Linked DNA regions of Homo sapiens: region 1 is linked to region 2. Evidence: fine-mapped expression QTL. Tissue or cell type: whole blood. Region 2 holds a variant in brackets; the other region holds the start of a gene. All regions are shown on one strand. Distances are between the middles of the regions.

The links. PIP is the estimated chance that this variant, and not a neighbour inherited with it, causes the effect.
Region 1: HOOK1 starts here. The variant in region 2 is fine-mapped to the expression of HOOK1 in whole blood (TOPMed, PIP above 0.99).

What each region holds. Positions count from the first base shown.
Region 1 is chr1:59,813,309-59,816,187 of GRCh38, reverse strand. It overlaps HOOK1 (hook microtubule tethering protein 1), which reads right to left and starts at 1,239. Exons shown (of 22, transcript NM_015888.6): 1 at 1,008-1,239. The coding sequence starts at 1,070. It overlaps LOC105378758 (a long non-coding RNA gene), which reads left to right and starts at 1,322. Exons shown (of 5, transcript XR_947426.3): 1 at 1,322-1,426. RefSeq lists an enhancer at 372-935 and a silencer at 1,172-1,771.
Region 2 is chr1:59,777,160-59,780,072 of GRCh38, reverse strand. The region is part of intron 4 of LOC105378758 (a long non-coding RNA gene); the gene reads left to right. All of the region lies in intron 2 of LOC101926944 (a long non-coding RNA gene), which reads right to left. Among named protein-coding and RNA genes, the nearest start is that of HOOK1, 36 kb to the left of the region's middle. The variant C/T (reference allele first, on the strand shown) is at 1,712.

The DNA.
Region 1 (2,879 bases), 36 kb before region 2:
ATTAGATCACTAGGGAATCTCAACCGATTACAGCCTCCTGATCCCGTCTGTTTACATTCCATCTGCACACACTCCCCTAGACGCAACTAAACAACTGGTTTGGGATGAGCATCATCAACAGCACCTTGTGGCTCATCAAACACCATCTTTACTCAATATGGGTTAAGAACCACACCTGAATGCCAGCACTGATATCTAAGTAACTCTAAGAGGTGGGATGTCATTTTGCTGACTGGAATATTGAACAATCTGGGGACAGATATGCCTGTCCAGACCCAACACAAATTAACAAAAATCCTAAACACAGATAAATCCTAAAGAAAAATGTCAACTCATTTTCTTTAAAGAAAATGCTGTCCATTTAGAGGAGGAGAGGGCCAGCGAGAAAAAGGGAAAACGACCCCCGACTCCCAACACATCTTTTTCTCCATACGGGAAATACAAACATCTCTTTGAAGCGGCTTCTACAAAATCGGATGTTCTAGAGTCCTGAAGGAGCATTGGTCCGGGAACTAAAACAGCCAGCCACCTCCTGGCCACCTGTGTCCAGGTAGAGCAAGGTAGTTTGAGGATGCAGGGTTAGGTTTCGGAAAGGGTCTTCACGCCCAAGCGGACCAAGGCAAGAGAGTCGGCGATCCAGAAAGTGGAGGGCTCGGGCGCTGTTCAGGGGGAGAAAATGGGGCAGCGGGGAGAAAAGAGGATGGGTGCTTGGTTCATATCCCAGCTGTTAGGGCACCAGGCAGGTCGAATCCTCTGGTTGAGACCAGAGCCTCCACTGTTACGCTCCCAGAGCTTCCTTTACCCCCACCCCCGGACACCAACCCGCGCCCACACACCTGCCCGTCGACCCGCAGGTGGCATTCTCTCGGTCAAGGGCACGAGGTGAGAAGGGCAGGGTGCGCCGGGACCCTGTGCAGGTAGCCCCAGCTCACCTGGGAGAACCGGGCGCCCCAGGCTCCTCGCCTCGGCCCCCTGGCCCCCTCGCCCTCTCGCCTCCTCGCACTCACCCAGATCATGAGGCTGTCGCACAGGGGCAGCTTAGGCTGCGGCGGCGGCTGCGTCTCCTCCATGGCCGGCGCCGCCGTCGACGACGCCGCGGACACCTTCACACTCCCTCCTACCGGCTCTCCTCCAGGAGCCGGCGTCCACGACCTGCTAGCCCCCAGGAAAGCTCGGTACCAGGCCCGACCCGCGCAGCTCACGCGCGAACCCTCGCGCTGTCGACGCGTCCGGCGTCACCCCCTCCTCACCCGCCCCCGCCTCGCTCCAGCGTTCGCCCCCTCCCCTTCCTGGGCCCCGGCCGCGCTGCCAGGCACCTGAGCCCCGCCTTCTCCCACCCCTCCCCTCCTCCCACCCGTCCTGCCCACTCCCGCACACCTCGCCCCGCCGCCCTGAGTGACCTGGCCGCGCACCAGTCACAGAGACGGTAGGTACCCGGGGGGGCGGGCGGGGCGGGGCGGGGGCGGGAAGAACCGGGATAGGTTGCGCAGGGGGGATTGCTGATTGGACGTGCCCTCGTGGGCTCTGGCCAATCAACGTGAGACAAGCCTGAGCCTTGGGTAGAGAGTGAGAGTGGGTGGGAAGAGGTTTATGACCTGGCAGGTGCAGTGAGGGCGGGGGTGGGAGGTTGCGCGCGGGAAGCGAGCGCGCGTGCGCGGCGGGGATTGGTAAGGCTGAAGCTCAGCCCCAGTGGCCGAAGAGGCAGAGGGGCAGCAGGGCACCGGCTGGGCTCAGGCGTCTTCCCTCCTTCTTCGCGGTAGCACGCCGCCTCGCTACACCTGTGGAGGGCCCACACTCTGCTTCCACATTGTCTTCAGAAATAGATCCTACCGGCTGGGCGAGGTGGCTCACGCCTGTAATCCTAGCACTTTGGGAGGCTGAGGCGGGTGGATCACCTGAGGTCAGGAGTTCGAGACCCGCCAGGCCAAGATGGCGAAACCCATTCTCTACTAAAAATACAAAGATTAGCCGGGGGTGGTGGCACATGACTGTAATCCCAGCTACTCAGGAGGCTGAGGCAGAAGAATCGCTTGAACCCGGGAGGCACAGGTTGCAGTGAGCCGAGATCATGCCACTGCACCCCAGCCTGGACAAAAAACCGAGACTCTGTCTCTAAAAAATATATAAAACAAAATAAAGAAAGAAAGAAATAGATCATACCCATGAATTAAAACTCTTCGAGGAAGGAAGAGCTGATTTCCTCCTAGGCACTCATTGGAAAGGGATGTTTTCATTTGCACACGTGGCAAATATGCCACATTAATAAGGAAAATAGAATCCGTCAGTGCTCCTTAAATAAGCTCTCACGGGACCATAGATCATGAGCAATTTTATTTTACATGGGGCAAAAGGGAAGACCGTTTTCAAGTAGCAAAATAAACGAAATGTTTTGAAAAACATGGAAGATATTAATGTATCCATTTTCCTTTGTCAGTTGAAAATTTGCTTTTTCCGAGAATGTTGTGGGGTGGAGGGGGGTCGGGGGAGGTGACCTGAAATTGGAAGCTCTCCAAGGTATTGATAGATGGCTTAGGTGATTGAAAAGGGCTAGACTATTCTTAGTCTTGCTGTCACTTCACTCATTCATAAACTCATCAATTCATGCTCTGAGTAAGAAAACAGCTGGCTTTTTTTTATATTGCTGCGTTTTTATATTTAGACACTGAAAATTTAAAACTGATGGACGACTGCAATTAAAAGCCCCCAAGTGTAAATCAGTCTCATTCTAAAAATACAGTATGTACGTTTGCTATTGACTCCCTTAACATTATTCCAGAACTTTCTTAACGCCTCTGGAGTCACTTTATATGCTGGAACTAGGTACATTGGTAATGTGATTTAATTAAAACTACAAGATTTAGGAATTGAAGACCTGGTCT
Region 2 (2,913 bases):
GAGCACCTGCTATTTAGTGTTCTTTTAAATGATGGTTTTTCTACCTGTACTGCTGTCTCTCTGCCCTTTCACTTGGCTAATTCCTAGTCATTCAATAGATTTCACCTTAAGTATTTAACTGCAGAGAAGACCATCTTGACTTCTACCTAACCCCATTTGTATTAAATCATATCTATAACCCTTTTATAAAGAATCTGGTATTTTCCTTCATAGCATTTATAACAACCCATTTGTGCTTTCATTTATTCAAAGTCTTTTTATGTATATATACATGGGTTAGTATATATACATACATGTATTTTCTATCTTTTTCCACTGAGAGAAACTAGAAGCACTTCCGGCACCCAGATCTTGGTTTCTGATACCATTCTCCAATAAAAGGAACCAGTGTTCTTTGGAGAAATCACTGATTCTAGGGCAGGGGTGGGAAAATCCAAGATAAGCCTGGAGCATTTTGTAGTGACAGAATGCAAGGAAGGGCTCAACAAAATGGGGACATGTGAAAAGGGCACAGTAGTCAACCTGAAAAAGCTCCCATTGGCCAAAGCTAGGCAGTGGGAGCTCTAACTTGTTGCCCCAGTTAGGGAAACAAAATAAATGACAGTATTGGAATATAACCTAAAAAATAAAATGAATATTCATGAATGTTTACTGAGTGATAAATGATTGAATAAATAAATAAATGGAGGAGAAAGGATAAATATTTCCTGCCAAATTCCAAATGATAAACGTAGTTGCTGCCTCCTCCACGATGTAGAGCTTAACTCTGCTTCCCTTGTGAGGGCTGGATTTAGTACTCACTTCTAACTAACAGAATATGAAAAGGGAAAAATAGAAACTTAACAGCAGAGAAATCTGCCATGTATCACCTTAACTAAATTAATAAGGTTAACATCATCAATGATAGCTCATGTTTATAGCTTGTATCCTTGATGTGATGTGGTGAGAAGGGCACTTTGCCAATATGTCATTTGTCCAAAATATTCAGAACTCTAGTCTACTTATATGAACACATCAGACAAACCCAAATGCGGGGACTTTCTCCAAAATGCCTAACCAATCCTTTTTTTTTTTTTTTTTAGATGGTATTTCGCTCTTGTCACCCAGGCTGGAGTGCAATGGTGTGATCTCGGCTCACTGCAACCTCCGCCTCCTGGGTTCAAGTAATTCTCCTCCTCAGCCTCCCTAGTAGCTGGGATTACAGGTGCCCGCCACCATGCCCAGCTAATTTTTGTATTTTTAGTAGAGACAGGGTTTCAACATGTTGGCCAGGCTGGTCTCAAACTCCTGACCTCAGGTGATCCACCCACCTCAGCCTCCCAAAGTGCTGATATTACAGGCGTAAGCCACCAGGCCTGGCCCTAATCAATAATTTACAAAGGTGTCAAGGTCACAAAAAACAAAGAAAGTCTGAGAAACTAAAGAGATATGATGATTCAATGAAACATGGTGCCCTGGATTGGATCCTGGAAAAGGAAAACATTAATCAAAAAATTGGCGAAATTTGGTTAGAGTTTGTAATTTAGTTAGTAGCATCGTACCAATGAAAGTTTCTTAGTATTGATAAATACTGTATGGTTGTGTGAGTTGTTAACATTAGGGGAAGCAATGTGAAGGGTATATGGAACTCTCTATTGTTTGCAAGTCTTCTGTAAAACTAAAATTATTACAAAATGAAAATTTAAAAATGTCTTCTTCTACTAAACTTTAT[C/T]TGTTGCTCACTACTGTATATTCATTTTTGGAACAGTGATGTATGGTGGGTAAAACTGTGGTTTCTCGAGGCTGGATGCATGTTTGATTTCTGGCCCTGCTATTTATGAACTATGGGAGTGGCAAGTTTCTTAAGGACTTCTTGTCTCAGTTTCCTCATCTATAGAAGGGGCATAAGGTGGTTGCGAGAATTGGAGGGCTTAATATATATAAAACACATACAACAATGCAAGGTTAGTTATTACGGGTATAATTTCCATTTAATATGTCATTGTTGAATGAGTGAATAAATGATTCAGGGCTTTTTGCTAAGTGTGAATCAGGATTGAATTCAAGTCAGAGAGAATATTTGAAGAAGAGGCAGGACATAGAGTAGTTTGTTTACAGTGGAATGGAGGCTCTGTAAGGCATAGCTGGTGGGTTGGCACAAGGATGGCAGAAGGATAAGGAAAAACTGTGGGGCATGTAAGCCAGGAGTGATACTGTTATGGAAGTGTGTATGAGGGCTTTGTGTTTGGAGCAGTGGTGAAGGTTGACAAACAAGGGCAATTGGTCTCTCCTGGGCATATTGCCTTCAAATTGGTTCTTCACTTTCTCCTGCTCTGCTCTGTATTTCAGGGGACTGACCCTTGAATTCTGCATATTTGGCCAGTGGGAGGCACTGGTGGAACACTAGAGGGAGGGAAGAGGGGAGAAGTTGGAATGTTTCTCCCCTCCCTCTCTGTCTTGGGCAGCAACTCCCCAGCAGCGCCATCTCCAGAACAGTCCTGCCAGGATGCCAGCTTCGCCCAGGGGCCCGTAACACTGCCTCTTCCTCTGTCCCTCTGGCCTAGGGTCTTAGTGGTTCCCTTCAGTTATGATTCTCTGGGTTGCCTCACTACCCCATGCTTGGCTCTCAGTTCCTCCACTTCTGTGTAATTAATTCCCAGTTTTTAAATCCCTGTTATGAATACTCAGCTGGCAGCTATTTCCTGCTTTGACTCTGACAGAAACAAAAGGCACGATGGAATTCCCTGTCTTCCAGCCTGACTTAAACTCAGGGGAAAAGATTTTTCAGTGCTACCATAGATAGAAACGCTGGCTACTTTCCTAATTGCTGGTTATAGGGTCCGTGTGCTGTGACCTGGCCTGGGCTTCAGATCATTGCAAAGCTTAGAAGGAGGAGGTGCTGATGAGAGCCCATTTAGGCGTATATCATGCACC